Regions from separate parts of the Homo sapiens genome. Here region 1 is linked to region 2. Evidence: fine-mapped expression QTL. A gene starts in region 2. The other region holds a variant in brackets. All regions are shown on one strand. Distances are between the middles of the regions.

Evidence for each region. PIP is the estimated chance that this variant, and not a neighbour inherited with it, causes the effect.
Region 1: its variant is the best candidate, but not a certain one, in a credible set for the expression of LONP2 in whole blood (TOPMed, PIP 0.64).

What each region holds. Positions count from the first base shown.
Region 1 is chr16:48,190,528-48,194,920 of GRCh38, forward strand. ABCC11 (ATP binding cassette subfamily C member 11) reads right to left here. Exons shown (of 30, transcript NM_001370497.1): 19 at 3,352-3,455; 20 at 1,993-2,190. Among named protein-coding and RNA genes, the nearest start is that of ABCC12, 37 kb to the left of the region's middle. The variant G/A (reference allele first, on the strand shown) is at 2,247.
Region 2 is chr16:48,242,255-48,246,647 of GRCh38, forward strand. It overlaps LONP2 (lon peptidase 2, peroxisomal), which reads left to right and starts at 2,046. Exons shown (of 15, transcript NM_031490.5): 1 at 2,046-2,367. The coding sequence starts at 2,135. The region is part of intron 1 of ABCC11 (ATP binding cassette subfamily C member 11); the gene reads right to left. RefSeq lists an enhancer at 1,982-2,071.

The DNA.
Region 1 (4,393 bases), 52 kb before region 2:
TAATTTTTATATCTTTGGTAGAGACAAGATTTTGCCTTGTTGCCCAGGCTGGTCTCGAACTCCTGAGCTCAAGCAATCCACTCACCTCAGGCCTCCCAAAATGCTGGGATTCCAGGCGTGAGCTACTGCACCCAGCTGACAATTCAGTATTCTAACCAAACACATATTCCAACTTTAACATATGTGAGATTTCAGTTTCCTCATATGTAAAATGAGGATAATATCCACTTCAAAGAGAACTCAGGGCAATCATAAGCAACTCTGTATATGACCATGCTCAGCCAGTGGAGGCCAGCGTCACTGTGGCCCTCCATCAGGGGACACTGAGCTCTTAGAACCAGACTTCCAGCAGGAGAGCTCCACCGCACTTTCATCACTCCCTTCTCACCAAGCAGCCTGGTTCACCCAGCTGCAACTACATTTTAGAAAAGGCAAAGCTATGAAGAGAGTAAAAAAGATCAGTGGTTGCTGGGAGTTTGAGGGTAGGGAGGGAGGGATGAATAGGTGGGACACAGGGTTTTGTTTATGGCGGCGGAACTATTCTGTACCATGGATACATGTCATTATACATTTTTCAAAACCCATAGAATGCACAGCACAAAGAATGCACCATAAGGTGAACTATGGATATTCATTAATAATAGTAATTAATAATGTACCAATATTGACTCATCAATTGTAACAAATGTCCCACGTTAATGCAAGATGTTAAGAATAAGAGAAATGGGCCAGGTGCAGTGACTCACAACTGTAATCCCAGCACTTTAGGAGGCTGAGATGGGCAGATGGCTTGAGCCCAGGAGTTCAAGACCAGCCTGCGCAACATGGCAAGACCTGTCTCCACAAAAATACAAAAATTAGCCAGGCATGGTGGTGTGCCCCTGTGGTCCCAGCTACTCGGAGGTTAAGGTAGGGAGGACTGCTTCAGCCCAGGAGGTCGAGACTGCAGTAAGCTGTGATCACACCACTGCACTCCAGCCTGAGTGATAGGCAGGTATATGAGAACTCTCTGTACTTTCATCTCAATTTTTCTGTAAACGAAAAGTGCTCAAAAAATAAAGTTGGCTTGGTTTCAAGTCTTTGCTATTGTGAATAGTGCCACAATAAACATACGTGTGCATACATGTGCATTTATCTTTACAGCAGCATGATTTATAATCCTGAAGCTGGAAACCATCATTCTCAGAAAATTATTGCAAGGACAAAAAACCAAACACCACATGTTCTCACTCATAGGTGGGAAATGAACAATGAGAACACAAGGACACAGGAAGGGGAACATCACACACTGGGGCCTGTTGTGGGGTTGGGGGACGGGGGAGGGATAGCATTAGGAGATATACCTAATGTTAAATGACGAGTTACTGGGTGCAGCACACCAACATGGCACATGTATACATATGTAACTAACCTGCATGTGCACATGTACCCTAAAACTTAAAATATAATAAAAAATAATAATAAAATAAAGTTGGCCGGGCATGGTGGCTCACACCTGTAATTCTAGCTACTTAGGAGGCCAATGTGGGAGGATTGCATTAGCCCAGGATTTTGAGACTAGCCTGGGCAAACAGAGCAAGACCCCATCTCTACAGATAAATAAATAATTAAGGTCTACTAATAAAAAAAAAATAGGCCGGGGGTGGTGGCTCATGCCTGTAATCCCAGCACTTTGGGGGGCCGAGGTGGATGGATCACTGGAACCCAGGAGTTTGAGACCACCTTGGGCAACGTGGTGAAACCCAGTCTCTACAAAAAATACAAAAATTAGTCAGATCTAGTGGCATGTGCCTGTACTCCCAGCTACTTGGGAGGCTGAGGCAGGAGGATCACTTCAGCCTGGAAGGTGGAGGTTGCCATGAGTGGAGATTGTGCCACTGCACTCCAGCCTGGGCTACAGAGCTCTAAAAAATAAAAAAATAAAAAAATAAAAATGAAGCTGGGCAAGTTCAGAGCTCAGCCTTCGGCCCCACCCAGCACCCAGGCCCATACCTTGTTGAAGAGCTTGTTGTGCAGGGCCGTGGATGCCTTCCTCGTGACCTTGGTGAAAATCCCTGAGGAGCAGACCCCCACACAGATGAGGAGCAGGGCGTTGAGCCCGTACACCAGCTGGTAGAAGGACAGTTGAGGATTGTCTGCAATGTTGCCCAGGTCTGCCATGGTTCCATTGCTCTCTCGGCTGCTATTGGTCTTCAAGAAAGAACAGGGGGTCTGACTGCAGGTGTCCGGGGGAAATTCAGTGGCAG[G/A]GAAAGCCTTCTCCCTGGGGCCACGTGAGAATCTGTGGCTGGTAGAAGGTGAAGCTGTTTGCCCAAACCTCCCTGCTCAGCGCTTGGCTACTCTCTTTTGCCCTTCATTCCCACTGCCCTGCCCTGCATCAGGCCCTCAGAGTCTGCCCCGTGGACACTGCAGCAGCTGGGCCCTTGTGCACGCTCTGCTGTGATGCAGCGAGAAGCTTGGGAACGTGATTTCCCAGAACCCCTCCCAGCATGGTTTCAGGTCAGATTCTGCCAAGGAGAGGCACCCACAGGGAAACAGAAAGGTGGAAGAGGAGAAGCCAGCATGCTCAGTGGCAACTGTGGGCAGGAGCATGGGGTGTGGGGTTTTTCCAGAGGCTGGAAGGCATCCTGGGAATCACCCACTTCAGTTCAGCTGAGATCCCTGATGGCCAATTCCCCTCCAATGGTTGACTGAGCCTCTAATTCCCTATATTAAATCCTTGGAAGCTCTAAATACTTAGAGTGGCTTCTGCTCTCCTGACCCAAACCTCCTGGTACACGATCCAGAAATTAACCATATGGAGTACTGTGGGAAAAGCATGGCTTCGATTCTAAGCACCAAGTTCAAGTTCCGGCCCTGTCCTGTCCTAGGGCAGGTTCTTCATCCTCTCTAGGCACAGGGTCCCCTTGGAAAAATGGAGACAGTGGAACCTTCCTCTGAATGTGGGTGGGGAGATTAGTGAAATAACTTGACACAGTGTGGCCCGTGGTGGCTCCCAGCTCACAAGACCAGAAGTATATTTTAAATAAACCATAGTATGGAGGCCAGCCTGGAGCTAAAGGAGACAGTTACTGCAGTGGAATGCAAAGATTCTTGGGGCACTGTCTGGGGATATAAATCTCTTGGTTTTCCAGTAAGACTGCACAGGCGACCACCCATTCTACAAAGTCAGGAGGCCTGTGCCAGGGGAACCCCAGAGTCCTGGCTCCCCACGGTTCTCTCTGGAACACCAGCTCTGGGCTTGTCATGTGGGTCCCAAGCCATGCTCTGGCTCTTGTGGTCTCAAGGAGCAAGAAGTCACCCCACCTCACTCAAGCCCATAGAAACACAGCCCATCCACCTCATGGCACTCACCCCCGAGCCCTGCTCCAACCAGTAGCTCAGCCACCAGAAGCTGAAGATCGTTAAGAAGACGATCAGCACCACGAAGAAGAAAATTATGCAAGAGACCATGTAACCTGGGAGGGAGACAGTGGTGATGTACAAGTGCCACAAACAGGTGCGAGGCAACTGCTGACTCAGCTGCTCGGCCATCTCTGTCTTTGAGTGCTTGGAAACCCTTGAGCCCCACCCAATGTGGACACCTTGGAGGAATGGGAAGAGCTGGGTTCCAAAGTCAGAGAGCCCTGGGTTCAAATCCTGGCTCCACCACTTCCAAACCGTGTGACCTTGGATAAGGTACCAAATGTCAGCAACATACCACTTCTTTACCTATGAAATAGTGATAACCTTACCAGCTTCAGAGCCATGCTGAAGATGATATGATATAATGTGTGTGAAGCACTCAGCCCAGTGCCTGGCACAGGGCAGTGTTCTAGAGAAGTTAGTTCACCTTATGCAGGTCCTGCAGGTTCAGTTTTATAAATAATAATAACAGTTACCTTTTATGTGGTACGTACTATTATGTGCTACATGCCAGGAATAGTACCAAATGTATGCATTATTTCTGAATTAGTAATTCCTATCCCCATTTTCAATAGTGCTACTGTGTGAATGTATGTGTCTCTCCAAAATTCATATGTTGAAACCAAATTCCCAAGGTGATGGTATTAGAAAGTGAGGCCTCTAAGAGGTGACGACCATGAGGATGGAGCCCTCATGAGTGGCATTAATGCCCTTAAAAAAGAGGCTTCAGAGAGCTGCCTTCCTGGTTTTTTGTCCCTTTCACCATGTAAGGATACAACATTTATCCCCTCCAGGGATGGAGGACACAGCGTTCAAGGCGCCATCTTGGAAGTAGATACTGGGCCCTCACCAGACAAAAAACTTGCCAGCACCTTGATCTTGGACTTCCCAGTCTCCAGAACAGTGAGAAATAAATTTCTGTTCTTTATAAACTACCCAGTCTAATATATGTTGTTACAGCAGCACAAATAGGCTAATAAAATGAGGAAAC
Region 2 (4,393 bases):
CAAAAGAAGACATTTATGCAGCCAACAGACACATGAAAAAATGCTCATCATCAGTGGCCATCAGAGAAATGCAAATCAAAACCACAATGAGATACCATCTCACACCAGTTAGAATGGCAATCATTAAAAAGTCAGGAAACAACAGGTGCTGGAGAGGATGTGGAGAAATAGGAACACTTTTACACTGTTGGTGGGACTGTAAACTAGTTCAACCATTGTGGAAGACAGTGTGGCAATTCCTCAAGGATCTGGAACTAGAAATACCATTTGACCCAGCCATCCCATTGCTGGGTATATACCCAAAGGATTATAAATCATGCTGCTATAAAGACACACACACACGTATGCTTACTGCGGCACTATTCGCAATAGCAAAGACTTGGAACCAACCCAAATGTCCATCAATGATAGACTGGATTAAGAAAATGTGGCACATATACACCATGGAATACTATGCAGCCATAAAAAAGGATGAGTTCATGTCCTTTGTAGGGACATGGATGATGCTGGAAACCATCATTCTGAGCAAACTATCGCAAAGACCGAAAACAAAACACTGCAAGTTCTCACTCATAGGTGGCAACTGAACAATGAGAACACTTGGACACAGGGTGGGGAACATCACACTCAGGGGCCTGTCGTTGGGTGGTGGGGAGTGGGGGGGAAGGGATACCATTAGGAGATATACCTAATGTAAATGACGAGTTAGTGAGTGCAGCAAACCAACATGGCACATGTATACATATGTAACAAACCTGTACGTTGTGCACATGTACCCTAGAACTTAAACTATAATAAAAAATAAAATTAAATTAAAAACAGAAAAAAAATAAAAGTATCAAGGTTGTAAAAAAAAAAAAAATTGGACGGGCGCAGTGGCTCAGGCCTGTAATCCCAGCACTTTTGGGAGGCCAAGGCGGGCAGATCACGAGGTCAGGAGATTGAGACCATCCTGGCTAACATGGCGAAACCCCGTCTCTACTAAAAATACAAAAAATTAGCCGGGCGTGGTTGCGGGTGCCTGTAGTCCCCAGCTACTCGGGAGGCTGAAGCAGGAGAATGGCATGAACCCGGGAGGCGGAGCTTGCAGTGAGCCGAGATCTCGCCACTACACTCCAGCCTGGGTGACAGAGCGAGACTCCGTCTCAAAAAAAAAAAAAAAAAAAAAAAATTGAGGACTTGCCACAGATTAGAGAACACCTAGGAGATTTCATAACAAAACACCTAGGAGATTTCACAACAGGATCCTGGATATTGGATCCTGGACCAGATCCAATGAAGGACATTAGTGGGAAAACTGGCAAAATTTGGGTAAGGCCTATAGGTTAAACGATAATAATGTTAATTTCCTGGTTTTGATCATTGAACTATGATTATGTAAGATGATAACAGACGAAACTGGGTGAAAGGTATATAGGAACTCTGCTGTAGTTTTGTACATCTAAAATCAATTCGGGCCGGGCACGTTGGCTCACGCCTGTAATCCCAGCACTTTGGGAGGCCGAGGTGGACGGATCGCTTGAGGTCAGGAGTTAAAGACCAGCCTGGCCAACATGGTGAAATCCCCTCCCTACTAAAAATACAACAATTAGCTGGGTGTGGTGGCGGGCATCTGTAATCCCAGCTACTCGGGAGGCTGAGGCAGGAGAATCGCTTGAACCCGGGAGGCAGAGGCTGCAAGCCGTGGGTATCGCGCCATTGCACTCCAGCCTCCGCGACAGAGCGAGAATCTGTCTCAGAATAAATAAATAAATAAATAAATAAATAATTAGTTCGAATCAAAAGTTAAAAACACTTCAAGTATATGTAAAAAATCGAAGAAAACGTTAAAAACACTTCAAGTATATACAATTCAAATAAGATCATCCTTCCAAATATACTCTGTAAGTGAGGCGAAGGTCGCTGCACGCTTGAGTGCACGTCTTTCCGCATAGGTAGGACGCTCAAGTCTTACCGGGAGGCTCTCCTAGAGAGCAGCGCGAAGCCATGGCTTTTGGGCCCGGGGACGGACCGTAGCGCGTAGCCGGAAGCGGAGGCGTGGAGGCGGGTCTGAGGTTTGGTGACTGCGGGGCAGGCCGGGGGCAGCTGTCTGTCTGGCTCTTTTTGACAGCCCCCAGTGCGAAAGGCTGCCAGCATGTCATCAGTGAGCCCCATCCAGATCCCCAGTCGCCTCCCGCTGCTGCTCACCCACGAGGGCGTCCTGCTGCCCGGCTCCACCATGCGCACCAGCGTGGACTCGGCCCGCAACCTGCAGCTGGTGCGGAGCCGCCTTCTGAAGGGCACGTCGCTGCAAAGCACCATCCTGGGCGTCATCCCCAACACGCCTGACCCCGCCAGCGACGCGCAGGACCTGCCGCCGCTGCACAGGTAGGCCTGGCTGCCCCCGCGGCGGCGGCGGGCGGCGCGGCCTCCTCCGGGGACCTGGGCCCAGGCCACGGCCTGCCTTGAGCGCGAGGCTCAGTTCGGGGCGGCCTTCGCGGCTCGGTTCCGCCTCTCTGGTGCTATCACTTGCAAAATGGGGATGTCAGATACCTGCCCCATGACCATGAATGAGATCGTTCATGAAGTAGTGCCTGACACCTGGTGAAACTACGCAGTTCCCTACCGTTCTGGATAATTTAATTTGAATCCTCTTCCCCCTCTCCGCAATTCCTCGCCCTCGGTCTTCAGCCTCCTAGGCCAGTGCTTTTAACTTTCCAGGCCCTTTCTTTCTCCCCGGTGATCTCTGCCTTCACTTGCCTTCGCTTTTCACCTTTCTCCCCACTGCCCTTTACTCCTATCCGCCTCCCCTTTTCTGTCACCCATCATTTTTGTCCGCTGAGGCATTCTCTGCTCCGTGAGTTTTAACTTTTCCTGTTTCATTCCTAAACTGCACTATTTGTGGGTGCCTTTCTTCTATACTCCCTGCCACCCTTCTCCTTCTCCCCCTAATCCTTCTGTTTCCCTTTGTAAAGGGCCTTTACTGCTCACATTTTCGCTGGTCCCCCTTTCTGGAACTTTCCTAGCTTCTCACCTCTGCTCCTTCACTCATAACATTTCTTAGGCCCCAGGCTTACTACTATATTGCCCAGTACCCTCGCCCTATTGGTGTGACTTTGGGTGAGAGCTTTAACCTCTATTTCTTTTATTCTGCAATTTGGAAACTGACAGCATCCATCTCTTAGGCAAGTTATGAAGAATAAATTGAATAATGTGTATATTCCACTTTGCACCATGCATGATGGATGACTTTGCTGTCCAGTACTGTGTAGTGCATGTGGCTCGTCAAATTGAGATGATAGAATTGCCAGTTGTCCTGGTTTGCTGCGATTGTCTGTTTTAGCATTGAAAGTCCTATGTTTTAGCCCCTCCGTCCCAGGGAAACCAGGAGGTTGGTCACCCTAAATGTGCTGTAAGTGTACAATACACGCCAGATTTTGAAAAAACTTTTTGATTAATACATTTTATATGGATTAAATGTTGGAAAGGTAATATTTTGAGTACTTGGGGTTAATAAAATGTTAAGATTTCTGCTGTTTTTACTTTATAATGTGGCCACTAAAATTTTATATGTGGTCCACATTATATTTTTATTGGACAATGCTGGTATATCGTATGCTCTCAACAAGTATCTTCAAACTCACCTGCCAAGCACCCGCCTCCTATTCCTAACTCTACTGGAGGTGTTGTGTTTTCAGTTTAGAGCTTCTCCTTTCCTGGCAGTTATCCCTTATTTTTAAATTAGGGGTTCCTGACTCTGAATGGATTTCCGGAGGGTTGGACATGTCTTATTTTTCCTCAAAATCTTGTGACTATGTACATTTTTTTAGGAGAATCCTTTGCTTTCTTCAGATTCTCAAAGGAGACTGGTACCTCCCCCCACCCCCGTTAAAAGAAAGCAAAACAAAGCAACAAAGACCAACAAACCTTCCACAGCAGCCCAGTATTCATTTATATTGTAAAAGCCTTGATTTTCTCAAGCATGGAAAATATTTTGGCTCCCATCTGACCTGCTTTGGTTATTGCCTGAGTGGAATTGGTCACATTCCAAGTTTCAGTACTCTTTGATAAATTGTATTGGATTCTAGTTTCCCAACATACGACTCTGCTCCTTCTGCTTACTTTTCCCAAATTATTTTGCCTTCTGTGCCCAGGCACACTTAGTTCCCTGTCTAGGCAAGAGTGGTCATTATTAGACTTCATTTTCTTTCTACTGTGCATATGTATTGATTAGCCATGGGCACATTGTGAACTTGAAAAGTCGATTTAGTCACATTTTAAGTTTCACTATTTGTTGGTATTATTCTGGCAAGATTTTGGAAGGTTTTTATTATTTATTCATTTGTGTATTTTTTGAGACAGAGTCTCATTCTGTCTCCTCCGCTGAAGTGCAGTGGCGTGATCGTAGCCCACC